7 linked regions of the Homo sapiens genome follow. The protein of the gene in region 1 interacts with the protein of each later gene in a pairwise test. Each region holds a gene or a part of one and is shown in the gene's direction. Other genes may lie near its edges.

Region 1 (2,961 bases):
GAATTACTTCAGGCAAGACAGAATTGCTAAAAAAAAAAAAAAAAAAAGGAGTAGTCATCAGATCTGCCACATTTTCAAGTTTTGTAATGGAAAATGGCAGGTATTCTGGAGGGAGTTTCTGGAGGAAGCCAAACTTTCACTGAGGCTTAAATATGATGAACAATTAACCAAATAAAGTTGAAATGTTTTATAATTGTCATTAAATCCTTGATATTTAAAAGGAGAAGCAGTATGGTTCTTAGAAAGCATTCATTCCCGGCCCAGGAGTGGTGGCTCACGCCTGTAATCCTAGCGCTCTGGGAAGCCGAGGCAGGCGGATCACCTGAGGTTGGGAATTCGAGACCAGCCTGGCCAACATGGTGAAACCCCATCTCTACTAAAAAATACAGAAAAATTAGCCAGTCGTGGTGGCACATGCCTGTAATCTCAGCTGCTTGGGAGGCTGAGGCAGGAGAATCACTTGAAGCTGAAAAACAGAGGTTGCAGTGAGCCCAGATTGCCCCACTGCACTCTAACCCGGGCGACAAGAGTGAAACTCCGTCTCAATTAAAAAAAAAAAAAAGAAATAAAAGAAAGCAAGAAAGCATTAATTCCCATGCACTGGTCCTGGAGAATCTATAATTCAGTCTTTTATCACAGGTTCACATTCCCTTATAAAAAGGTAACAGTTGGATGCATGTCTGGAGGAGCTCTTGGGCTTGTCCGATTGTATCTTTAACTTCTCATCTGCACCTTTAGCTATGGCTATTTGGGCTGTGCTTAGAAAATGGCCATACTCAGGGCACTGTAGAATGAACAGTCCTTCCTGTTTAGGCATTTCTCCTTCCACTTTAACTTCTGACTCTGTCTTCAGGGCATTTCTGTTATATTAAGCTTCTTAAGTGATGAGTGGTCTGGTGTTTGTGTTATGCAACTCAATTTAAGATAGGTTCATGTGAGATCTGGCAGAAAGCAGGCTGGGGTGGGGTGTGGAGATACTGAATATTGTGCATGTAGCATATGAAAGGCAAACATAAATTTAATTCAGAAACAGGCAATGTTTATTTATAGTTAAGGGTCAAATGAATTATACAAGGGACATATGACAAATAGGATGTAATTTGCTTCATTAATCCAAATGAAGGAGAGTAACTTTCTTTCTCCTCAGAAATACAGAATCACACATACTGCAATACTTCCAGAAATAAATCATCCACTGAGTCTTAAAAGTAAAGAACTCTGTGTTCTTGCTCTGGTGTCTACATAACCGGGATCTTATAAGTAAGCCAAAGACATCTAAATGGCTTTGCCTAGAAGCCAAGGCCATTGGTCCAACAAAGACATCTTGAGGTTACTGGAATGCATGGAGAATAATCGCCCATCTGATGACAACAGCACGTTTAGCTCAACTCAGTCACACATGGACTGGGGAAAAGTAGCTTTTAAAAACTTTTCTGGTGAAATGTGCAGACTCAAATGGTTAGAGATTTCTTGCAACTTGAGAAAATTCGGCACTTTGAAAGAATTAGTCCTGGAAGCTAAGAAATGTGTTAAAAAGATGAACAAAAGCCAAAAATACAGGAACGGTCCAGACTTTCCAAAGAGGCCCCTTACTGCTTACAATCGCTTCTTCAAGGAGAGTTGGCCCCAGTACTCCCAAATGTACCCTGGGATGAGAAGCCAGGAACTGACCAAAATCCTGTCAAAGAAATACAGGGAACTCCCAGAGCAGATGAAACAGAAATATATTCAGGATTTCCGGAAGGAAAAGCAAGAATTTGAGGAAAAACTTGCTCGATTCAGGGAAGAACACCCTGATTTAGTCCAGAAGGCCAAGAAATCTAGTGTCTCCAAGAGGACTCAAAACAAAGTGCAAAAGAAGTTTCAGAAAAATATTGAAGAAGTGAGGTCTCTTCCAAAAACGGATCGATTTTTCAAGAAGGTAAAATTTCATGGAGAGCCTCAGAAACCCCCCATGAATGGATACCACAAGTTTCACCAAGATTCCTGGTCAAGTAAAGAGATGCAACATTTGTCAGTGAGGGAGCGCATGGTAGAGATTGGCAGACGCTGGCAGCGCATCCCGCAGAGCCAGAAGGATCATTTTAAGAGCCAGGCTGAGGAGCTGCAGAAGCAATACAAGGTGAAATTGGATCTCTGGCTCAAGACTTTGTCACCTGAAAATTATGCTGCATACAAAGAATCGACCTATGCTAAGGGTAAGAATATGGCCATGACAGGAGGCCCGGACCCCAGGTTGAAACAAGCAGATCCACAGTCCTCATCAGCAAAGGGTCTGCAAGAAGGGTTTGGGGAGGGGCAAGGGCTCCAGGCTGCAGGAACAGATTCATCACAGACTATTTGGGTAAACTGTCATGTCTCCATGGAACCAGAAGAGAACAGGAAGAAAGATAGAGAAAAGGAAGAAAGCAGTAACTCTTCAGACTGCAGCAGTGGAGAAGAAATAGAAGTTGATGTCTGAGGGCAGTGGCTCTAGTGCAGCTTCCTTGTTTTTTTTTTTTTGTTTGTTTGTTTTCTTTTCTTCCTTCCTCCCGCAAAGTAGGACAGGTTGGGAAGAAAGAAGCAACTTGGTGCAGCACTCTCCTACATCAAGATTATGAACCTGGGAGGAACTCTTTGGGAAGAATAAATATAAGTTTGAGCCAATACTGGCCTTATCCTTAAAAAAACAAACAAACAAATATCATCCCTTTCCCGAGGAACTTTATGCAATTAAGGCTTCTGAAATGAAGAGATGATTACGTTGTGGGGTACACACTGTATTAGACTGAATATTTCTGAAGCAAGAAGCTTTGCTTTACTCATTTTTGTCCTGCCAAAGGTGGTAGGGGGATACCCATAAGCCTGGGACCCAAACTTCCCTGTGGAAATGTTTTTCAGGACTCCTGCACTAAATCTAAGGTCGGGGATATTTGATGAAAGGTGGGGTAGGTGTCTTAAGAGAATTGTCCCACTCTTGAT
Region 2 (3,500 bases), on another chromosome or scaffold:
TGGCCAACATGGCCAAACCCCATCTCTAGTGAAAAATACAAAAATTAGCCAGGTGTGGTGGCACATGACTGTTGTCCCAGCTACTCGGGAGGCTGAGACAGGAGAATTGCTTGAACGCGGGATGCAGAGTTGCAGAGAGCCGAGGTCGCACCACTGCACTCCATCCTGGGCAACAGAGCGAGACTCCATCTCAAATCAATCAATCAATCAACCCTCTTAATTTTTTTTCTACCTGTGGCCACCTCTCCTCTTGTCTGATTTTCAGTTATTTCTGACTAGTGAAACACAGTTGCATCAGTATCAGGGCATTGATTGCTCAATTGAATAAGTCATTTACTGGCCTTTTCTTGTATGTCAGGGGCTGTTTTGGTTTGAGCATGGAGCTAGCAGAGCGAAGGACTGAGGCTTGCTTAGGATTGGGGGTGCAGTATACACCCAACTGCCCCGAACCCTAATCAGCTTGTGTGGTCACAAAATAAAACACTTGATAAAATGGGAAGTGCAGCGGAAACTCAGCTTATACCTCCTAGGAAAATTAGTCACCGTTGTGCAGTCAGTCACATGGCTGGATGCTGGAATGTGCGGTCCCTCCTTCCACCTTGAGCCTCAGCTTCTGCATGCCAAGGTTAATACGCAGAGTCTCCTGTGAGCCATGTGAGGAGGTAGCCCTCCACGAGGTTGGGGAGAACGTAAGTGGAACTTCTTAGCTGAGGAAGATGGCACATTTACTCAAGACTCAGAAGACGCAAGTGACCAAAGATTAAGACGCCAAATCACAGGCGCGCGGGCAGGGTTGTGCGGCTGTGCTTGGCTGCATGCGGAAGATGAGGTTGTGCTCTGACTGAATAAGGAAGGCAGCTACAATTACAGCTTTAGAAAAACTCTGGGGAAAATTGCCCTGGTTTTGTGAGGACTGGTATTTTTCAAACTGCATTTGCAGATGTGCCTAAAAATAAAAACAAATTGCGAACATGTCCTGCAAGTCCCTTGGGCAGGATGCCACTGCCAAGGGGGCTGGGTCCTGAGACCCTTGAGGCTCCCAGCCGGTCCTGTGAACCCAGAGACCCGCGGCACCAGAGTGGATGGCATGGGAACATTCCTCCTGTCCTCAGGGAGAGCATTTTATTTGGTTTCATCCCCCTCCCTCCAGTTTCTATGTTTCATTGGAAAGAAAAGTTACTAAACCTTTTTAATCTTTTAAGCCATTTTATTTAATTTGCAGTTCTTAAAAATTCACTATTAAAATGTACTTTAGGCTGGGCGGGATGGCTCACACCTGTAATCCCAGAACTTTGGGAGGCCAAGGCAGGTGGAACTTTGAAGCCAGGAGTTCAAGGCCATCCTGGCCAACATGGTAAAACCCCGTCTCTACTGAAAATACAGAAATTAATCAGGCATGGTGGTGCCCACCTGTAATCCCAGCTGCTTGGGAGGCTGAGGCAGGAGAATCGCTTGAACCCAGGAGGCAAAGGTTGCAGTGAGCCAAGATTGTGCCACTGCACTCCAGCCTGGGCGACAGAATGAGACTTTGTCTCAAAAAAATAAAAAAATAAAATGCACTTTAAACATCTTTTCCTTAAAAAAAAAAAAAGAAGCTTTATAATAGGTAACTTTGAGTGCTATGTGTCAGACACTTTCTCCTTTGTAGTTTTCACAAAAACTTTTTGAGGTGAGGTAGATGTGTCCAGCTCCTATTACAGAATACAGCTTGGATGGGTAGGTAAACAGCTGGCCTGGTGTTAGATGCTAAATATTTTAACTCGGTTAAAAACCTTTTTGGGCTGGGTGCAGTGGCTCATACCTGTAATCTCAGCACTTTGGGAGGCCGAGGCGGGTGGATCAGCTGAGGTCAGGAGTTCCAGACCAGCTGGGCCAACATGGTGAAACTCTGTCTCTACTAAAAATACAAAAATTAGCCGGATGTGGTGGTGCATGCCTGTAATCCCAGATACTTGGGAGGCTGGGGCAGGAGTATCACTTGAACCCGGGAGGCAGAGGTTGCAGTGAGCCGAAATTGTGCCACTGCACTCCAGTCTGGGCGACAGAGCGAGACTCCGTCTCAAAAAAAAAAAAAAAAAAGCCCTCTTTGAAAACTGGGCTGGGTTAAGGGTCAGGTGTGGTGGCTTGCATCTGAAATCCCAGCACTTTGGGAGGCTGAGGCCGGAGGGTTGCTGGAAGCCCGGAGTTTGAGACCATTTTGGGCAACACCTGGAGACCCTGTCTCTACAAAAAATAAAAAATTAGCTGGGTGTGGTGGCGTGCACCTATAGTCCTAGCTACTCACAGGCTGAGATGGGAGAATCATCTGAGCCCAGGAGTTCAAGGCTACAGTGAGCTCTGATCATACTGCTGCACTCTGCCTGGGTAACAGAGCAAGACCCCCATCTCTGGGGAAAAAAAAAATGAAAAAACTGGATTAAAAGCCAGGGTTTCATGCAGTTCCATCTGACTCCAAAGTTTAGTAAAGAATTCCATTTTTTGGAGGGTCACCTGCACTAATTCCTGCCTTGGTCACAGACTGGCCCATCTGGCTTGTTGACTTGCTCATGCACCTGCACCCAGCTCACAGCTTAGCAGGAAGAGGGAAAGAAAGCTGGGAGGTCATGGCCCATTCCTCAGTCCCAGCTTCCTTGGAAGGCTGGAATGAAGCTCTCATGCCGGGAGTCTCCTGAAGTCCTTCCTACTCCCTGGTCTCAGCTGCATCCCTTGGGCAGCACAAATCACCCCACCCCCGCCCCGTTCCCTATCTGCACAAGAAGCAGTGCTGGTGGGGACTGTGTGGGTTGACATATGTAACACTTAGAACATGAAGCCTGTGCCACATGAATACTAACTACTGTCCCCCTCTTCTAGGTTTAATTTTTAGAAGTCAATGTCACCTGTAGCAGAGAAGTTCCTTGAAATCAAATCAGACATATGGCAATTGTGAAAAGATTGAAGTAAGGTTTAGGTCTTGGTTAAATTTTTAAAATCCTTGAGTTTGTTTTGTTAATGACTGAGCATATTCTCTCCACTTTACCTTTTGTGTGTGGCAGGGGCCACACAGCCACCATCCCTATTGTTTCAGGTTCCAATCACATTCCTGTTCTGGGGCCCACATTCTCAAGGGAATCTTCTGGTAGTGAGAGTTTGCTTCAGTTTGCATCTGGAAACAGCTCTTAGGGGTAAGGGGGATTTGCCCCTGAGTGGCATGAGGTCAGGGCTGCTGGGGCCAGGTCTTCCTGGACTGGCACCTCAGCACAGTGGCGAGGACATCTCTGATCTAGCAGGGTAAAATCCGGAGTCAGCTGGCTGGAATTTGAACCTCCAGGTTGCAGGAAGCCCAAGTACTTCCCATTTCTGGGCCTGCCGCTTGTCCTGTGTGACTCCCCGGCCCACAGGCCTCTGGCAGCTCTGATTAGGCTCACGCTGCTGTCCCAAAAGACCTGGTCTGTCTGCTCTCTCCACAGCAACTGACTATTCAAAGAACTTGATAGAAAGGTACCCCGGGCCACTCCCAG
Region 3 (3,500 bases), on another chromosome or scaffold:
CTGCACTTATGGCACCGAGATCATCTCTAAGTGGAAAAGCCTCCTAGAGAATGACCAGCTCTTGTCCCATGGCGGACAGGACCTCTCAGCAGATGCCTTTCACAGGTACACCACAGAGCAGGGCTCTGTACCCCAGCTCCTTTCTCCTGGGGGGTTGGGAAGGATTGCTGAAGGTGGGGGAAGGCAGCAGTGCTGGCCTTGATTAATTCTCTGCTCATGCTGACAGTGCTTTAGGAATTTAAATTCATTTGGCTATGAATTTTTTTTTTTTAATTTTTTTGAAATGTTTTATTTCCATAGGGTTTGGGGAACAGGTAGTATTTGGTTACATGAGTAAGTTCTTTAGTGGTGATTTGTGAGATTTTGGTGTACCCATCTCCTGAGAAGTATACATTGAATCCAATTTGTAGTCTTTTTTTTTTTTTTTTTTTTGAGATGGAGTCTCACTCTGTCACCAGGCTGGAGTGCAGTGGCGTGATCGCAGCTCACTGCAACCGCCAACTGCCTGGTTCAAGCGATTCTCCTGCCTCAGCCTCCCAAGTAGCTGGGATCACAGGCACACGCCACCACGCCCAGCTAATTTTTGTATTTTTAGTAGAGACAGGGTTTCACCATGTTGGCCAGAATGATCTCAATCTCCTGACCTCGTGATCCACCCGCCTTGGCCTCCAAAAAAATGCTGGGATTCCAGGCGTGAGCCACCGTGCCTGGTTCAATTTGTAGTCTTTTATCCCTCACCCCCTTCCCATCCTTTCCCCGAGTCCCCAAAGTCCATTGTGTCATTCTTATGCCTTTGCATCCTCATAACTTAGCTTCCACTTATAAGTGAGAACATAAGATGTTTGGTTTTCCATTCTTGAGTTACTTCACTTAGAATAATAGTCTCCAATTCCAACCAACTTGCTGCGAATGCCATTATTTCATTCCTTTTTATGGCTGAGTCATATTCCATTATATTTATACCACAGTTTCTTTATCCACTTGTTGATTGGTGGGCATTTGGGTTGGTTCCACATATTTGCAACTGCGAATTGTGCTGCTGTAAATTTGTGTGAGCAAGTATCTTTCTCGTATATGACTTTTTTTTTTTTTTTTTTTTGAGATGAAGTCTTGCTTTGTCGCCAGGCTGGAGTGCAGTGGCACGATCTCGGCTCACTGCAACCTCTGCCTCCCGGGTTCAAGCGATTCTCCTGCCTCAGCCTCTCGAGTAGCTGGGACTACAGGCGCTCGCCACCATGCCCAGCTAATTTTTGTATTTTTAGTAGAGACAGGGTTTCACCATGTTGGCCAGGATGGTCTCGATCTCTTGACCTCGTGATCCGCCTGCCTTGGCCTCCCAGAGTGCTGGAATTACAGGCGTGAGCCTCCGTGCCCAGCCATGACTTCTTTTCCTCTGGGTAGATACCCAGTAGTGGGATTGCTGGATCAAATGGTAGTTGTACTTTTAGTTCTCTAAGGAATCTCCACACTGTTTTCCATAGTGGTTGTACAATTACATTTGGCCATGAATTCAGCTGACACTTGTCAAATGTCTGTTGCGTATCATGCTTGTGCTAGGTGCTGGGCTTACCCTAGGAGCACAGCAGACAGCCTCTGTCTACAGTACAGCAAAAAAAGCAGATGGGAAGTAAGGTAGTGAACAAATAAAGGCAGGATGCACACCAGGTACAGCGATAGAGAACTGCAGGAGCAACCTACTTGGAACGGGGGTTGGCACAGAGGTCTTAGGGGAGGTGACGTTGAAATTGTGATAAGAGGGTGAGAGGCATCAGCTCATGAATAGAAGCCTATAGGTGGGAAAGCACTTGATACCTGGGAAGAGGCCCTTGTGACCCTAAAGCAGCTCTGCCAGGTGGATGGGCACTACCTAGGAGACTGAGGCCTCAGATTGAGAGGAGAGTCAAGAGAACAAGGAAGAGGCAGGCTCAGTCTGGCCAGTATGGTGACTGGCCTGATGGTTTCCTCTGATTGGATTTCCATGCTGTTGCATTTTTATTCCTGATTCTAGAGAGGCAGGTGGTGGTGGTGTACTTTGAAACCAGTCAGTGTAATTAACCAGCCTGTCCTCTGCCTTTCTCCCATAGGTTGATATGGGAAGTCTGGATGCCTTTTGTTCGAAATATTGTCACCCAGTGGCAGCCAAGGAACTGTGACCCGATGGTGGACTTTTTGGATAGTTGGGTGCACATTATTCCTGTGTGGATCTTAGATAACATACTGGACCAACTCATCTTCCCCAAGCTGCAAAAGGAGGTGGGATGAGAGTCATGGGAAACAGTCGTCATCACTAATCACAGGGACTTGTTCAGTCTGTGGCTTCATTATCTCAGTGCTGTTAAAACGCCTGGAATTAACGGAATTTGTCAACACAACTATTGACCTATAGTGTTAATTCCAGCCTTTTTCTCAGCACTTTTTCCCCCAAGCCACCCTCAGGAGGGAATTCATTTTCTTGATTTTGTCACTAAAATTAGAATTGTGCTGTTTCTGAGATGTAATCAAATGGATGGGCATATTTGTTTGGCAATGTACAAAGGACTGTGGGCCTCAGAGAGCACAGGGCCTCCTCCAGGGGCAGCTCTTGCCTTTAGCCACACAGGGGTGTTATGTGACTGCCCCACAGGCGACATGAACTGTTTCTCCTCCCCACTTCGCAGGTGGAAAACTGGAACCCGCTCACAGACACTGTTCCCATCCACTCTTGGATCCACCCATGGCTGCCCCTTATGCAGGCACGGCTGGAGCCACTCTATTCCCCCATCCGTAGTAAGCTGTCCAGCGCCCTGCAGAAGTGGCACCCCAGCGACTCCTCTGCCAAGCTCATCCTCCAGCCCTGGAAGGATGTCTTCACTCCTGGCTCCTGGGAAGCATTCATGGTCAAAAACATAGTGCCCAAGCTGGGTAAGGATAAGGGGAAATGCATTCCAAGCCCAGCAGCTTTGGTGCCCTGGTTTCTGTGGTTAGCAGTGATGATTTAAAGCATCGCCTTTATGTTCATGAAAGTGCTTAGTACACAATATTCCTTGCTGTGAAAAAGGTAACATTTTGTTCAGAGGCTGAACATAAATGTAACTTGGGTCCTTTCCGCTGTTTATTTACAACAGTCACTAATAGTCGACAGTGACAATATCGGACTCTGTGCCTTGTGGTTTTCCCGATTGGTTTTGGCTTCTGGTAATAGGACAGCCATTGGAGTTCTAAAATTTTTGTGGTATTTTACTCTAAATTATTAGGGAGTTATTTCCAGGTTAGCAAAAAAAATATATATACATACACACACACACACACACATATATGTATATATATACACACATGCATATACATGTATATATACACATGTATATACACATATATGTATATACACACATATATATGTATATATGTATACACACACACACATATATATATGTGTATATATATACACATATATATTTTAAGAATCGCTATGTCGGGAGCTTAAATTTGACCTTTAAAAGCAGATTACAGCCTGAGCAACATGG
Region 4 (3,500 bases), on another chromosome or scaffold:
AGACGCGCGGGGGGAGGGGCGGGACCGGCCGTGCCCACTGCTCCCTCTCCCAAGCTACGACTACCTGACGGACGAGGAGGAGCGGCACAGCGCCGAGAGCAGCACGAGCGAGGACAACTCGCCCGAGCACCCGTACCTCCCGCTCGTCACCGATGAGGACAGCTGGTACAGCAAGTGGCACAAGATGGAGCAGAAGTTCCGCATCGTCTACGCGCAGAAGGTGCGCGACGCCGGCGGGCCCGGGGGGCGGGCGGGCCGGGCGGGGGATCCGGGCATCCCGGGGCGGGGCGGGGATGGGGGCCGCGGCCGGGACGTCCTCCCAGCCGCCCGGGCTGAGCCGGCGCCCCGCAGGGCTACCTGGAGGAGCTGGTGCGTCTGCGCGAGTCGCAGCTGAAGGACCTGGAGGCGGAGAACCGGCGGCTTCAGCTGCAGCTGGAGGAGGCGGCGGCGCAGAACCAGCGCGAGAAACGGGAGCTGGAAGGCGTGATCCTGGAGCTGCAGGAGCAGCTGTGAGCGCACGGCCTGCCCTAACCCCTGACCCCCGCCGCCCCGACCACATCACCGGGTGAACCCCATCTTCACTTCCATCGACTCTAACATCACCCGACACGAGCACCCACCTCTCCAGCATCAACCCTCTGATCCAGCCAGCCCCACCCCGAGATGCCCACAATGATCTTCTAACATTGCCCCCAGCATAAGATCCAGTGACTTCCAACAGCCAGAGCCCACCCTTCACCTTCAGTTATCTTCCGCTAGAGTGGCCATCCAACCTTACTGCAGGGACCCCACGTCACTCACAAGGACCTGCGGTGTTGCTCTGCAACCTTCAACACGATTGCATTCATCGCCTCACTCACCTGCACCACAGGCTCACTGACCGTCATCATCCGCCGTGACCCCCGACCTCACCCCTGCCGATCCCTGTAACACTTCTTCTCTACGCCTTTCCACCACCCTGATCTTGCGGCAAGATCCCCAAGACGATCTTACACTTCAGGGATTCCCACACTATCCTCCACTGACGTCCCCATCACCCCAGCTGACCCCAACAACACTGCACCATTCCCTCCAACTCCCAATATTTGTGCACGAATCCCTGTCACCCCTCCACCCCAGTACCACCTCCACTTCCTCCCGGGATCTGGCCCACTGACCCCAACACCGTATCCCCATTTTTGCCGCTCAGATTTCATTCCTGACCCCTCCCTCATCCCCTTGCTGAATCTCCCTTCCTCACTTCTCCTACTTCCAGCCAGGCCTGACTCCTCCTCCCCCTCCCAGGACAGGTCTGATCCCCAGTGACCACGCCCCTCTGGCCCAGGGTTCCAAGGAGCTCACTACACCCCTGGTCAATCAATGGCCCTCACTGGGAACGCTTAATGGGGCCGAGGGCGCCAGCAACTCCAAGCTCTACCGGAGGTAAGCCCCAGCCAGGTGGGGCTTGGGCCTGAGAGCGGGTCGTCCTGGGGAAGAAGGGCTTCCTCTACCGGCGCACCAGCTCTCGCTCTGCCGCAGACACAGCTTCATGAGCACGGAGCCGCTGTCAGCTGAAGCCAGTCTGAGCTCGGACTCCCAGCGCCTGGGAGAGGGCACGCGGGACGAGGAGCCCTGGGGTCCCATCGGTGAGCTCCCCCAACCCAACACCCAGTACCCCTCCAGAAAGGGCTGAGGCAAGGCCCTGAGGCCTCAAGGCATGTCCTCATTCATTCTCTTAGTCTTTTTTTTTTTTTTTTTTTTGAGACGGAGTCTCACTCTGTCATCCAAGTTGGAGTGCAGTGGCGCAATCTCAGCTCATTGCAACCTCTGCCTCCCGGGTTCAAGGGATTCCCTTGCCTCAGCCTCCCGAGTAGCTGGGATTAAAAGCGCCTGCCACCACGCGCAGCTAATTTGTGTATTTTTAGTAGAGACGCGCGGCTAATTTGTGTATTTTTAGTAGAGACGGAGTTTCGCCAGGCTGGTCTCGAACTCCTGACCTCAAGTGATTCACCCACCTTGGCCTCCCAAAGTGCTGGGATTACAGGTGTGAGCCACTGTGCCCGGCCTCTCTCAGCCTTTCTTGAGGGTTTAGCACAGCAATCGAGAGCTTACTTTGAGGTGGCAGAACACAGCATATGCAGAACCCAGCATAAATCTGGCTGTGCCTCCTCTGACCATGTGAGCTTGGTCAATCACTTTACCTCCATGAGTCTATTCTTTGTAAATGGGGATGTTGATAATCACCAATGTTGTCACATGGTGAGGGCTCAGTGGTTTTTTAGTGTCATGACATCCTCGGGGGCTCACAAACTCTCGGGGAACTCCTTAGACTAATTTGCTCTTATCTCATGCACACTGTGAACTACTTGCCTGACCATTGTTTCCCCCTTCTCTTTGGCTGCCAGGAAGCTCAGAGCCAAATTAGTGGCTCCCTTCGAGCGAATGCCCAGGACTTCAACGCATGCACTTTGTGTTGACCTCATCCCTGGCTTCACCTTGGTTTTTCCCATCCTAGTTCTCCCTATGCCTGAATATCCTGTCTTTTCTTTTTTATAAGCAACCACACTGTATTGGATGACCCTAGATCTTCTTTGAGACAAGGCAGGCTGTGGCCATGTAGCCCCATCACACTGTGTTTGTGATTGTCTGTGTGTCTGTCTCCCCCACCAGACTGTGAGCTCCATGAGGGCAGGGACCGTGTCTTGTCCGTTCTCTGTATCCCCAGTGCTTGGAACAGAGCGAGTGCTCACTGTGTATTTAATAAATGGACAAAGAGAGAGGATGACCCTCACGGGGAGACAGAGACATCAACTGACGATTACAATACAGTGTCCCCAGCACGGTGCCTGGCACAGGCAGGTGCTTAACCAAAGTTTAACTGAAAATGGCAAATGCTGTGGAATATGCCAAGGTCTCCTGGGGGGTGACTTGAGGGCTGCCCCTTCACTGCCCACCCCTCTACCAACTCCCACACATGTAGACTGGTCGCTTGGCCTCACCTGCCCTCTCTCCCCAGGGAAGGACCCCACGCCCTCCATGCTGGGCCTCTGCGGCTCCCTGGCCTCCATTCCCAGCTGCAAGTCCCTGGCGAGCTTCAAATCCAACGAGTGCCTGGTGAGCGACAGTCCCGAGGGCAGCCCAGCACTGAGCCCCAGCTGAGGAACAGCATGGGCAGTGCCAGCCCCACCTGCCAGGGGCCATGGACACCTGCCACCTTTCTTCAACAAGAGTCCCCCAATCCAGGCTACCCTTCCAGAGAACGCTACCCACCCAGCCAGGGTTCTCTCGGGGAAGATCTCGTCTGCTCACCTTAGCTTTCTGCCTTGGCAGCACGGGCTGCGGAAGAAAGCACGCTGGGCCAGGAGGCAGGGGTGCCCAAGCCACAGGGAGCCCCTGGGGAAGCCTGCTCCATTCTTCTGGTGACCTTGGCGCTCCTTCACTCATCTCCCCTGCCCCCTCAGGAACTGGTGGCCCAGCTTCCACACCCCCACCTCCCAGTCTCTAGCCTCTCCATCTGTCTG
Region 5 (3,500 bases), on another chromosome or scaffold:
GGTGCCTAGGCAGACCCTGGTTTGAATCTTGGCCTTACCACTTTTTGCATGTAAGTGGTAGGGGCAGCAGATAGCTCAGGACATATCTTGGGTTTTTTTGTTTGTTTTTGTTTTGAGACATAGTCTCACTCTGTTGCCCAGGCTAGAGTGCAATGGCACAATCTTGACTCACTGCAACCTCCACCCTCCCGGGTTCAAGTGATTCTCCTGCCTCAGCCTCCCGAGTAGCTGGGATTACAGGCACCGGCCACCACACCCAGCTAATTTTTGTATTTTTAATAAAGATGGAGTTTCACCGTGTTTGCCAGGCTGGTCTCGAACTCCCGACCTCAGGTGATCCACCTGACTCGGCCTCCCAAAGTGCTGGGATTGGCCAGGTGTGGTGGCTCATGCCTGTAATCCTACACTTTGGGAGGCCAAGGCAGGTGGATCATTTGAGGTCAGTAGTTCAAGACCAGCCTGGCCTATGTGGTGAAACCGCATCTCTACTACAAGTACAAAAATTAGCCGGACATGGTGGCACACGCCTGTAGGCCCAGCTACTCAGGAGGCTGAGAATCACTTGACCCTGGGAGGCGGAGGTTGCAGTGAGCCGAGATGGCACCACTGCACTCCAGCCTGGGTAACAGAGCAAGACTCTGTCTTAAAAAAAAAAAAAAAAAAAAAAGTGCTGGGATTACAGGCTTGAGTCATCCCGCCCTTCAGGACATATCTTTTGAATTTTGAACCTGGTGAATGAATTTTTAGATGACCTCAGGACAGTCCTCAATTTCCACATGACCTCAGTTTTTCCAGCTTTGCAAGGGGAGTATGAAACCAGCCCTGAAGTCTTGCTAAGAGGATTCGGGGAGCTCATAGAAGTTGTGAGTTGGTTCCTCCATTCGCCTGGGTGTTGTAAGGGGCAGGGCCTGTGTCTTGCTTGTGGCCTGCCAGGGTAGCAGCTCAGTAAGTGAGATGGTATCTCACTGTGGTTAGGATTCACATTTCCCTGATGACTAGTAATGTTTCCGTGTAATTTCTTGAATGATCATTCAGTAACAATAAGTGTAGGTTGAGTTTGTAGAATCAGGTTGACCTCCTCAGCCTCGATTTCCAAATGGAGAAAGCAGAGATTTGGAGCTCCTGGTCAGAGGAGCAGGTCGGTGCTGGAGCCAGGACTCAACCTTAGGTTGTACCTCTGAGCCTTTGAACACTTGCCGTTTCTATTCCTCACAGCAGCCCTTTCAGACGGAACGGGTGTTACCAGATTAGGAGGAGAGTGGCCACTGTATTCTCAGTGCCCAGCCCAGGGAGGCAGATCTGAGTGGAGTTGCTAATGAAACATGGAAGGTGCTTGAGAGCTAACTGGAAGGGAGGGAAGGTGTGCATTCCTGCACCAGGGCCTTTGCATGTACTTGTTACTTTCTCCTGCTGGCCAGCTGGAGTGTCTGGAAAGATCTGCCTTACTCAGGGAAGCCTTCTCACTCGCACTCTGCCCAGTTAGGACCACTGCCCTCTAGAGACCCTATAGAATTACAGAGGAGGCCGGGCGTGATAGCTCACACCTGGAATCCCAGCACTCCAGCCTGGGCGACAGAGTGAGACTCCATCTCAAAAAAAAAAAAGAAAAAAGAATAAACCCCACACACCTTTGCCTTCCCTTTGCTTTCCCTCACCACACCCCCATTCTCCCCGCCTCCCAGCCCCTGGCAACCACTAATCTGCCTCCTGTCTGCGTGGATTTGCCTGTCCTGGACATTTCCTATAAATGGATCATACAATCTGTGGTCCTTTTGTTTGGCCTCTTTCTGTTGGAATAATCTTTTCCAGGGACATCCATGTTGTAGCATGTGTCAGAATTTCCTTTCTTTTTATAGCTGAATAATATCCCATTGTATGGACTGACCATGTTTAGTTGGCCCATCCATCCGCAGATGGACGTTTGGATTGTTTCCACCTTTGGGCTATTGTGAATAATGCTGCTGTGAACGTTTGTTTACAGGTTTTCAATGCAGGCAAATGTTTTCGTTTTTCCTGGGCATAAATTCCAGGAGTGGAATCGCTGGGTCATATGGTAACTCTCTTTAACCGTTTGAGGAACCGTCAGACTGTTCTCCATGGTGGCTGTGCCATTTGACATTCCCACAAGCAGTGGAAATGGGTTCTGGATTTCTCATCCTCACCAACTTTTTTGATTCCAGCCATCCTAGTGGGTGTGAGATGGTGTCTCATTGTGGTTAGGATTTGCATTTCCCTGATGATGTTTTCTTCTAATTTCCCTGATGACTAGAGATGTTTTCATGTAAGTTATTTATTTATTTATTTATTTTTGAGACAGTGTCTCTGTCTGTATCCCAGGCTGGAGTATAGTGGCGCAATCACAGCTCACTGCAGCCTTGACCTGGGCTCAACAACAGATCCACCCCCCACCACACCCTCCCTAGTAGCTGGGACCACAGGTGTGCTCCACCATGCCGGGGTAATTTTTGTATTTTTCGTAAGAGGCAGGGTTTCACCATGCTGCCCAGGCTGGTCTCAATCTCCTAGGCTCAAGTGATCCACACGCCTTGCCCTCCCAAAGTGCTGGGATTACAGGCATGAGCCACTGCACCCAGCCTCATGCAATTTCTTTTTCCTTTTTTTTTTTTGAGACAGTCTTACTCTATGCCCCAGGCTGAAGTGCAGTGCCACAATCTCGGCTCACTGCAACCTCTGTCTCCTGGGTTCAAGTAATTATCTGGCTTCAGCCTCCCTAGTAGCTGGGACTACATACCCACACCACCTTACCTGGCTAATTTTTGTATTTTTGGTAGACAGGGTTTTGCCACGTTGGCCAAGCTGGTCTCGAACTCCTGGCCTCAAGTGATCCGCCTGCCTCAGCCTCCCAAAGTGCTGAGATTACATGAGTGAGCCACTGCGCCTGACCTCATGTAATTTCTTGAGTGGTCATTTAGTCATTATACAAACAGTGATTGAAGGGCATGTGCCCAGCACTGCAGACTCTGCTGCACAGTCAGATGACCCTGCCTTTCTGGCATTTCCATGCCAGTACCCTGAAGAGATACCATATATGTACCTGGTGCTTGCAATAGCTGGCACTCAGAGGTAGCACACTGTGTCCTAGCCACTCTTCCGAGCACTTAAGCATATTCAGTTACTCTTCAAGTACATATGAATAAGTATGCCTTTGCCCCCTCCTCTTTGCAAGGGATAGCGTGTGGCCACCCTGGTCTGCAGCTAGCTTAGCAGATTTGACCACATATTGTAAAAGTGAGTCTGTACCAGGACAGATAGGGTAGAGGGCTCTGTGTGGTTTAGCACCATGGTAGATTCCATCGTGCGGATGTCCCTCCAGCAGGGGAGGTCTTTGGGGCCAGGGCTAGGCCAGCACCCACATTTGCCGCCTGACCCCGTCCCTCCGTCTCTGTCTCTCCATTCCTCCCTGCCCCTCGTGCAGCCGCTGCCATGGCCCAGACACTGCAGATGGAGATCCCGAACTTCGGCAACAGCATCCTGGAGTG
Region 6 (4,109 bases), on another chromosome or scaffold:
TTTCACCCACCAGCCTTTATCGGCAAACATTAACTGAGCATCTGTTACGTGCCTAGCACCAGCTGGATGCTGGGAGTTCAGCATGCAGAGCCTTGGCCTCTGTCCTCCGGAGCTCCCAGTCTAGCAGGCAGACACAGACCCCTAGAGCAGCATTTCCAGCAGGGGAGGACACCTGCCATCGTGGAGGCACAAGCCTGGGGCAGGGAGGCCAGGAGAAGGCACCCCCAGCTTCCTGGCAGTCTCAGGAAGGCCCGCGGCTCTTCACTGCTATTGTGCTGTTGTCATTGTCAATTGCCAGCTGCGCGGCTGTCTCTCCTTTCGGAGCTTCCGGGCAGCATACCCACTCCAGCTCTCCGCTTCCCTCCTTTCAGTCGCTGGCCTTTGCTCTGTCCAGTGGACAGCCAGTGCCTCCCCTGACCGGGCAGAGGGCCTGTGGGATGATGGGTATTGGCCAGAGAGGCTCTGGGAACAGATGTGTCATTGGGCCAAATGGAAATCATGATTCAACCAAAGTTCTTGGTCACTGGGTCACCCTGGTCCCTGTTCTCCCTGCGGTCATCATGGCCTCCTCCCTTTGCCCTGCACCATTGTCCTGACCTCAGGTTCAGTGTCCACTAGCATGATTGCTACTTATTTGTCATTGTGCCCATGCAGACAGCTGTCGGAGGAAAATGCTAACCTCCAGGAATATGTTGAGAAGGAAACCCAGGAGAAGAAGAGATTGAGCCGAACCAATGAAGAGCTGCTTTGGAAGCTCCAAACTGGGGACCCGACCAGTCCGATTAAACTCTCGCCCACATCTCCCGTTTACCGCGGCTCCTCCTCGGGGCCCTCCTCTCCGGCCAGAGTCAGCACAACACCCAGATGACGCCACTACACGGCCTGCGGGAGCTCCGGCTTCTCGTCCTCCGGTCTCCACCCTGAGGGAGCACCGACCCGGTGCCGCCGGAGCTGGCCCTGTGCGCATGCTCAGTAGCTGCGAATGCATCCTAGGCGCGTCCTCCTCTGATCCCCGTGTAAGACTGCCCTGGTGTCGGCACTTAGGAATGTGTAAATGGTAAAGTCTGATGTGCAAACGTTTTACCATAGTTAGAGCCAAAAGAAAGACACTTGCAATTGTTCTTGAGCAATGAACTTTCACTGCAGAATTTCAGGTTAGTTACAAAAAGCTCAGTTTTCAATATACATTGAATAATCATTGTGTACTGCACCGATATGTGTGTATATTTAGATATACGTATATACACATGCTGCGGTTCTGAATTTCATTTTTTATAACATGAAGTGCTGACATATTTTAGTGAAGGTCAGCAGTTTTCTAACTTGTGCCTAAGAATTATTGGGAAATGAAAATGCATTTCTATCTAGCTTCCCAGGAATATTTCTACCCAAAATAGAAAAAGGAAAAAAAAAAAGATACAGAGAAGAAGCGCCTTTCAACTCACCACCAAGTGGTACTCTCTTTAACACGAACACCAGCTATTTGTGAACGGTAACTGCCTTTGGAACAATCAGCTTCTCAGTCAACATGATGTGAGATCACTATTATTCCATTCGCAAGTTTTAATTATTGATACTCCTGTCATGAGCGGATAAGGGAGAGCAGTGGGAAACCCTAAGGGGGTTTAGCAGTTTTGCAGATGTTACCCATGACAGTGACTCATCTCTGATAGTCTTGTAAACACAAGTTTTGCTTTTTTCCTAAATGGCATCTCAGACTCGGTCATTAAGCTATTGTTGCACCCTCCGGAAAACATGGCAGAGCATGACCTTTGAGTAAGAGTGAGGATGACCTTGCAGATGACTGTGCCCATTCGCGCTCCATCCTCATGAAGGAAATTGCTGCCAAGGTCTGTATTTTGACCAGGCACAGAGGGGGAACATCACTCCAGCTTTCCATGTGGTTCACTCTGATGCGATGCTGTAAATGATCAACTCTTTGAAATAGGACCCTCAGGCCCCCATTTCCTAGCAGCCCCCCTTCAGTTTGGTTCTACAACTCAACCCCTTCACTGCACATTGAGATGGCTCAGGGGTTCTAGCAGGGGCTTCCAGAAAAAAAAAACACCATTTCTGTCCCGGGGGACCAGTTCTGAGCTGTGCTAGATCATCACACGACCACCCAGAAACCCACTTGCACTTCCTGCTGGATGATCAGGCAACGCTGCTGCTGACCGTGCTCCCATCTTAGACCCAGAAGGTTCTCCCAAACAGAGGAGCCCAGTGAAACAGCCAGCCAGGGGGCACCAGCTCCTGGACTGGCATCTGTCTCTAAAATGGTAGAATTAGGATATGAACAGTACTCATGTAGTGGTGTGGAAGATTAGGAGCATGATACACAAAAGGAAGAAGTAGTTTTAACAGATATGGTGATGATGATGATGCCCTTGTTTCCTGTATGTGACAAAGACCCTGCACTTTCTCCCTGAGACCCCCCCAAAATTGTCCTGAGCACAGGCCTGTCTTTGAGCGTGCCCAAGGCGAGAAGAACCATGAGGGGGTCCTGCAGGGGCCGGAGCCATGGAACGGGGAAGAAAACAGCCCGCGGACGGGGTCGGCTTGTCCAGGGCACGCCTGCTCGGCACACGTGTTGCCAACGTGAAGGCAGACATGGTCCCTGGCCCTAGGATGAGTCCACGCTGGGCTTCCGGGCCTCAGGTGCATCTCCAGCCAACCTCCAAGGGTCTTGCTCCTTCTGGGGACGTACACAGTAAATCCACATGGAAACACCACCATTTCTCTTTGCTTTAGTGGCTCTGCATGATACTGTGATATTGAGTTGGGCATTCCATTAGAGTAGATCTTGCCACATTGACTAAATACACAAGTATTTATTCTAGTAGCAGGCACAACCTGCAAACACAAATTCAGTTACAGCTTAGCTGTCCGAATTAGGAACCGCTTACATAGCCGCACCTGCTAAATGCAGTTACACAGCAATACTGACTTCCGTGTGATGCTAGAACGTGGTACAGTGTATTAGGCTGCTGTGGTCAGAGTTGTAGCATCGTTAGCACTAAGTAATTCCTCATTAGGTGGACTTCGGTGAGAGCTTTGCCCTAACCTGCCCTGACCTTGGGTACTTGAGCTAATTTCCACGTGGCCCTGGCTTCGTGGTTTGTTTGTTTTTTTTCTTTTGTTACGGACACCCATCATGTATGGCTCCTCATCTGAGCCATCACCGCTCCCGAAACACATGGGGCGGCAGCTGCTGTGCCTCCTTCTCAATTCTTCCACCCCCCCACACCATCAGAATTCGGATTTCTCTCCACGTGGCGTCTGCCTCTGTCCCCTTCCAGGCTGGAGCGACGTTTCCACGTTCGGATGCTGCAGCCTCTGCACCTGCCTCAGACAGACCCACCAGATACCACCTGTCTCTTCGTGGCATTTGGGAGATGCGTGGGCGGCCTGCCCCCCGACCGCCGCCCCTGCCCACCACATGCTGGGACAAGGTTCTGGCTGGATGTCAGAATGGATGGGGGTGGGGGCAGCCCTGGCCGTGATTAGTTGAATGAATGGGGTCACAACATCCCTTTTCCTGCCCCTACAGTTTGTGTTGCATATTTGTGTTTAAAGCCTATTAAAATAAACTTGAGGGACTTTCTGCGATATCTACTTGATGTAACTGGAGACCTGTCCCTCTCAGGCTGGGGATCCCAGGCAGGGAGGCAAGGGGGGTGGCGTTTGCAGGCTGGACCCCTTTTCTGTGTGTGCCGGGGTTGGGTGATGGTCCGTGAGAGAAGTCTTGTAGAGACCCCCTCTCCCCTGACTCCGCAGGTCCCAGGTCCCTGCGCCCACCCCTCCAGCCTGGGGGCTTGAGCAGCCCCTCCCCTGGACTTGGGAGCTCAGTGCCTCTGCTCTGCAAGGCCGGGTGCGCTGGAGTTGGCTGGAAGGAGGACATAAAAGGTCATTCACTCATTTCAACCTGAAAGTGCTTGCTCCCCCCATCCCGATGGCCTTCAGTTTGGGCTGCAGCCGGTTTAGCCAGCTGGACCTCGAAGTGTCCCACAGGTGTCTGGCACCATCACAAGGGAGACAGCTGGGTTCGCAGGTTCCCTGTGGTGGTTTTGCAGGGTCTGTGGGAGTGGCAGCTATTTCAGCGAGATCAG
Region 7 (3,500 bases), about 34 Mb from region 1:
AAAAGGCTGAAAATTTCTAAAACCAGACATCTCTTCTCCCACAAAGGATCACAATTCCACGCCAGCAAGGAAACAAAACTGGACAGAGAATGAGTTTGATGAATTGATGGAAGTAATTGGGTAATAACAAATAGAAGAATTGGGTAATATCAAACTCCTCTGAGCTAAAGGAGCATGTCCTAACTCAATGCAAAGAAGCTAAGAACCTCGAAAAATGGTTAGAGGAATTGCTAATTAGAATAACTGGTTTGAAGAGAACATAAATAACCTGATGGAGCTGAAAAACACAGCACGAGAACTTCATGAAGCATACACAAGCATCAATAGCCAAATCGATCAAACAGAAGGAAGGATATCAGAGATTGAAGATCAACTTAATGAAATAAAGCTTGAAGACAAGATTAGAGAAAAAAGAATGCAAAGAAATGAACAAAGCCCCCAGGGATTATGGGACTATGTGAAAAGAGCAAACATATATTTGATTGGTGTACCTGAAAGTGAGGGGGAGAATGGAACCAACTTGGAAAACACTCTTCAGGATATCATCCAGGAGAAACTCCCCAACCTAACAAGACAGGCCAACATTCAAATTCAGGAAATACATGTAACACCACAAAGATACACCTCAAGAAGAGCAACCCCCAGACACATAATCATCAGATTCACCAAGGTGGAAATGAAGGAAAAAATGTTAAGGTGTTAAGGACAGCCAGAGAGAAAGCTCACATTACCCACAAAGGGAAGCCCATCAGACTAACAGCGGCTGTCTCAGCAGAAACCCTATAAGCCAGAAGTGAGTGGGGGCCAATATCCAACAGTCTTAAAGAAAAGAATTTTAAATGCAGAGTTTCATATTCAGCCAAACTAAGCTTCATGAGTGGAGGGAAATAAAATCCTTTACAGAAAAGCAAATGCTGAGAGATTTTGTCACCACCAGGCCTGCTTTACAAGAGCTCCTGAAGGAAGCACTAAACATGGAAAGGTACAACTGGTAACAGCCACTGCAAAAAAAACAAATTTTAAAGAACATTGACACTACGAAGAAACCACATCAGCTAATGGGCAAAATAACCAGCTAGCATCATAATGACAGGATCAAATTCACACATAACAATATTAACCTTAAATGTAAATGGGCTGAAAGCCCCAGTTAAAAGCCACAGACTGGCAAATTGGATAGAGTCAAGACCGATTGGTGTGCTGTATTCAGGAGACCGATCTCATGTGCAAAGCATACATAGGCTCAAAATAACGGGATGGAGGAATATTTACCAAGCAAATGGATAGCAAATAAAGAAAAAAGAAAAAAAAAACAACAAAGCACAGGGGTTGTAATCCTAGTCTCTGATAAAACAGACTATAACCAAAAAAGATCAAAAGAGATAAAGAAGGCAATACATAATGGTAAAAGGATCAATGCAACAAGAAGAGCTAACTATACTAAATATATATGTACCCAATACAAGAGCACCCAAATTCATAAAGCCAGTTCTTAGAGATCTATGAAGAGACTTAGACTAACACACAAAAATAGTGGGAGACTTTAACACCCCACAGTCAACATTAGACAGACCAAGACAGAAAATTAACAAGGATATTCAGGACTTGAACTCAGCTCTGGACCAAGCAGACCTAATAGACCTCTACAGAACTCTACACCCCAAATCAATAGAATATACATTATTCTCAGCACCACATTGCATTTATTCTAAAATTGACCACAATATTGCAAGTAAAATACTCCTCAGCAAATGCAAAACAATGGAAATCATAACAGTCTCTCAGACCACAGTGCAATCAAATTAGAACTCAGGATTAAGAAACTCACTCAAAACCACACATCTACATGGAAACTGAACAACCTGCTCATGAATGACTACTGGGTAAATAATGAAAATAAAGCAGAAATAAATAAGTTATTTGAAACCAATGAGAACAAAGACACAAGGTATCAGAATCTCTGGGACATAGCTAAAGCAGTGTTTAGAGGAAAATTCACAGTACTAAAGGCCCACAAGAGAAAGCAGGAAAGATCTAAAATCAACACCCTAACATCACAATTAAAAGAACTAGATAAACAAGAACAAACAAATTCAAAAGCCTCAGAAGACAAGAAATAACTAAGATCAGAGCAGAACTGAAGGAGATAGAGACATGAAAAACCCTTCAAAAAATCAATGAATCCAGGAGTTGGTTTTTGGAAAAGATCAACAAAATAGAAAGAACACTAGCCAGACTAATAAAGAAGAAAAGAGAGAAGAATCAAATAGACACAATAAAAAATTATAAAGGGGATATCACCACTGTTCCCACAGAAATACAAACTACCATCAGAGAATACTATAAACACCTCCACACAAATAAACTAGAAAACCTGGAAGAAATGGTTAAATTCCTGGAAACACACACCCTCCCAAGTCTAATCCAGGAAGAAGTCAAATCCATGAATAGACCAAAAACAAGTCCCAAAATTGAGGCAGTAATTAATAGCCTACCAACAAAAAATAGTCCAGGACCAGCCAAATTCTACCAGACATACAAAGAGGAGCTGGTACTATTCCTTCTGAAACTATTCCAAGCAATAGAAAACGAGAGGCTCCTCCCTAACTCATTTTATGCGGCCAGCATCATCCTGATATGAAAACCTGGCAGAGACACAGCAAAAAAAGAACATGCCAGGCCAATATCCCTGATGAACATGATGCAAAAATCCTCAAAAAATACTGGCAAACTGAATTCAGCGGCACATCAAAAAGCTTATCCACCAATCAAATTGGCTTTATCCCTGGGATGCAAGGCTGGCTTAACATACGCAAATCAATAAACGTAACCCATCTCATAAACAGAACCAATGACAAAAGCACATGTTTATCTCAACAGATGCCGAAAAGGCCTTTGATAAAATTCAACACCCTTCGTGCTAAAAACTCTCAATAAACTAGGTATTGACAAACATATCTCCAAATAATAAGAGCTATTATGACAAACCCACAGCCAATATCATACTGAATGGGCAAAAACTGGACGCATTCCCTTTGAAAACCGGCACAAAACAATGATGCCCTCTCTCACCACTCCTATTCAACATAGTATTGAAAGTGCTGGCCAGGGCAATCAGGCAAGATAAAGAAATAAAGGATATTCAAATAGGAAAAGAGGAAGTCAAATCGTCTCTGTTTGCAGATGACATGATTGTATATTTAGAAAACCCCATCGTCTCAGGCCAAAATCTCCTTAAGCTGATAAGCAACTTCAGCAAAATGTCAGGATACAAAATCAATGTGCAAAAATCACAAGCATTCCTATACACCAATAACAGACAAACAGAGCCAAATCGAATGAACTGCCATTCACAATTGCTACAAAAGAGTGTAAAATACCTAGAAATACAACTTACGAGGGATATGAATGACCTCTTCAAGGAGAACTACAAATTAGTGCTCAAGGAAATAAGAGAGGACACAAACAAATGGAAAAACATTCCATGCTCATGGATATGA

The links.
Region 2: the proteins of UBTFL1 (region 1) and BEND3 interact in binary tests that used the Homo sapiens proteins (3 or more experiments, as listed by UniProt).
Region 3: the proteins of UBTFL1 (region 1) and TFIP11 interact in binary tests that used the Homo sapiens proteins (3 or more experiments, as listed by UniProt).
Region 4: the proteins of UBTFL1 (region 1) and RUNDC3A interact in binary tests that used the Homo sapiens proteins (3 or more experiments, as listed by UniProt).
Region 5: the proteins of UBTFL1 (region 1) and NACC1 interact in binary tests that used the Homo sapiens proteins (3 or more experiments, as listed by UniProt).
Region 6: the proteins of UBTFL1 (region 1) and MTUS2 interact in binary tests that used the Homo sapiens proteins (3 or more experiments, as listed by UniProt).
Region 7: the proteins of UBTFL1 (region 1) and OR5AS1 interact in binary tests that used the Homo sapiens proteins (3 or more experiments, as listed by UniProt).

The regions. Positions count from the first base shown.
Region 1 is NC_000011.10:90,084,671-90,087,631, forward strand, and holds UBTFL1 (upstream-binding factor 1-like protein 1), read left to right. Parts: upstream 1-1,279; coding exon 1,280-2,461; downstream 2,462-2,961. UniProt on the Homo sapiens protein: Essential for proliferation of the inner cell mass and trophectodermal cells in peri-implantation development.
Region 2 is NC_000006.12:107,105,516-107,109,015, reverse strand, and holds part of BEND3 (BEN domain-containing protein 3), read left to right. Parts: intron 1-2,853; exon of another isoform or gene 2,854-2,939; intron 2,940-3,500. UniProt on the Homo sapiens protein: Transcriptional repressor which associates with the NoRC (nucleolar remodeling complex) complex and plays a key role in repressing rDNA transcription.
Region 3 is NC_000022.11:26,495,474-26,498,973, reverse strand, and holds part of TFIP11 (tuftelin-interacting protein 11), read left to right. Parts: coding exon 1-105; intron 106-2,084; coding exon 2,085-2,253; intron 2,254-2,657; coding exon 2,658-2,901; intron 2,902-3,500. UniProt on the Homo sapiens protein: Involved in pre-mRNA splicing, specifically in spliceosome disassembly during late-stage splicing events. Intron turnover seems to proceed through reactions in two lariat-intron associated complexes termed Intron Large (IL) and Intron Small (IS).
Region 4 is NC_000017.11:44,315,101-44,318,600, forward strand, and holds part of RUNDC3A (RUN domain-containing protein 3A), read left to right. Parts: intron 1-54; coding exon 55-220; intron 221-351; coding exon 352-509; intron 510-1,284; coding exon 1,285-1,422; intron 1,423-1,518; coding exon 1,519-1,625; intron 1,626-1,936; coding exon of another isoform or gene 1,937-2,023; intron 2,024-2,384; coding exon of another isoform or gene 2,385-2,404; exon of another isoform or gene 2,405-2,761; intron 2,762-2,995; coding exon 2,996-3,138; 3' UTR 3,139-3,500. UniProt on the Homo sapiens protein: May act as an effector of RAP2A in neuronal cells.
Region 5 is NC_000019.10:13,131,764-13,135,263, forward strand, and holds part of NACC1 (nucleus accumbens-associated protein 1), read left to right. Parts: intron 1-3,436; 5' UTR 3,437-3,444; coding exon 3,445-3,500. UniProt on the Homo sapiens protein: Functions as a transcriptional repressor. Seems to function as a transcriptional corepressor in neuronal cells through recruitment of HDAC3 and HDAC4. Contributes to tumor progression, and tumor cell proliferation and survival.
Region 6 is NC_000013.11:29,502,339-29,506,447, forward strand, and holds the end of MTUS2 (microtubule-associated tumor suppressor candidate 2), read left to right. Parts: intron 1-654; coding exon 655-868; 3' UTR 869-3,609; downstream 3,610-4,109. UniProt on the Homo sapiens protein: Binds microtubules. Together with MAPRE1 may target the microtubule depolymerase KIF2C to the plus-end of microtubules. May regulate the dynamics of microtubules at their growing distal tip.
Region 7 is NC_000011.10:56,034,154-56,037,653, forward strand, and holds part of OR5AS1 (olfactory receptor 5AS1), read left to right. Parts: 3' UTR 1-3,500.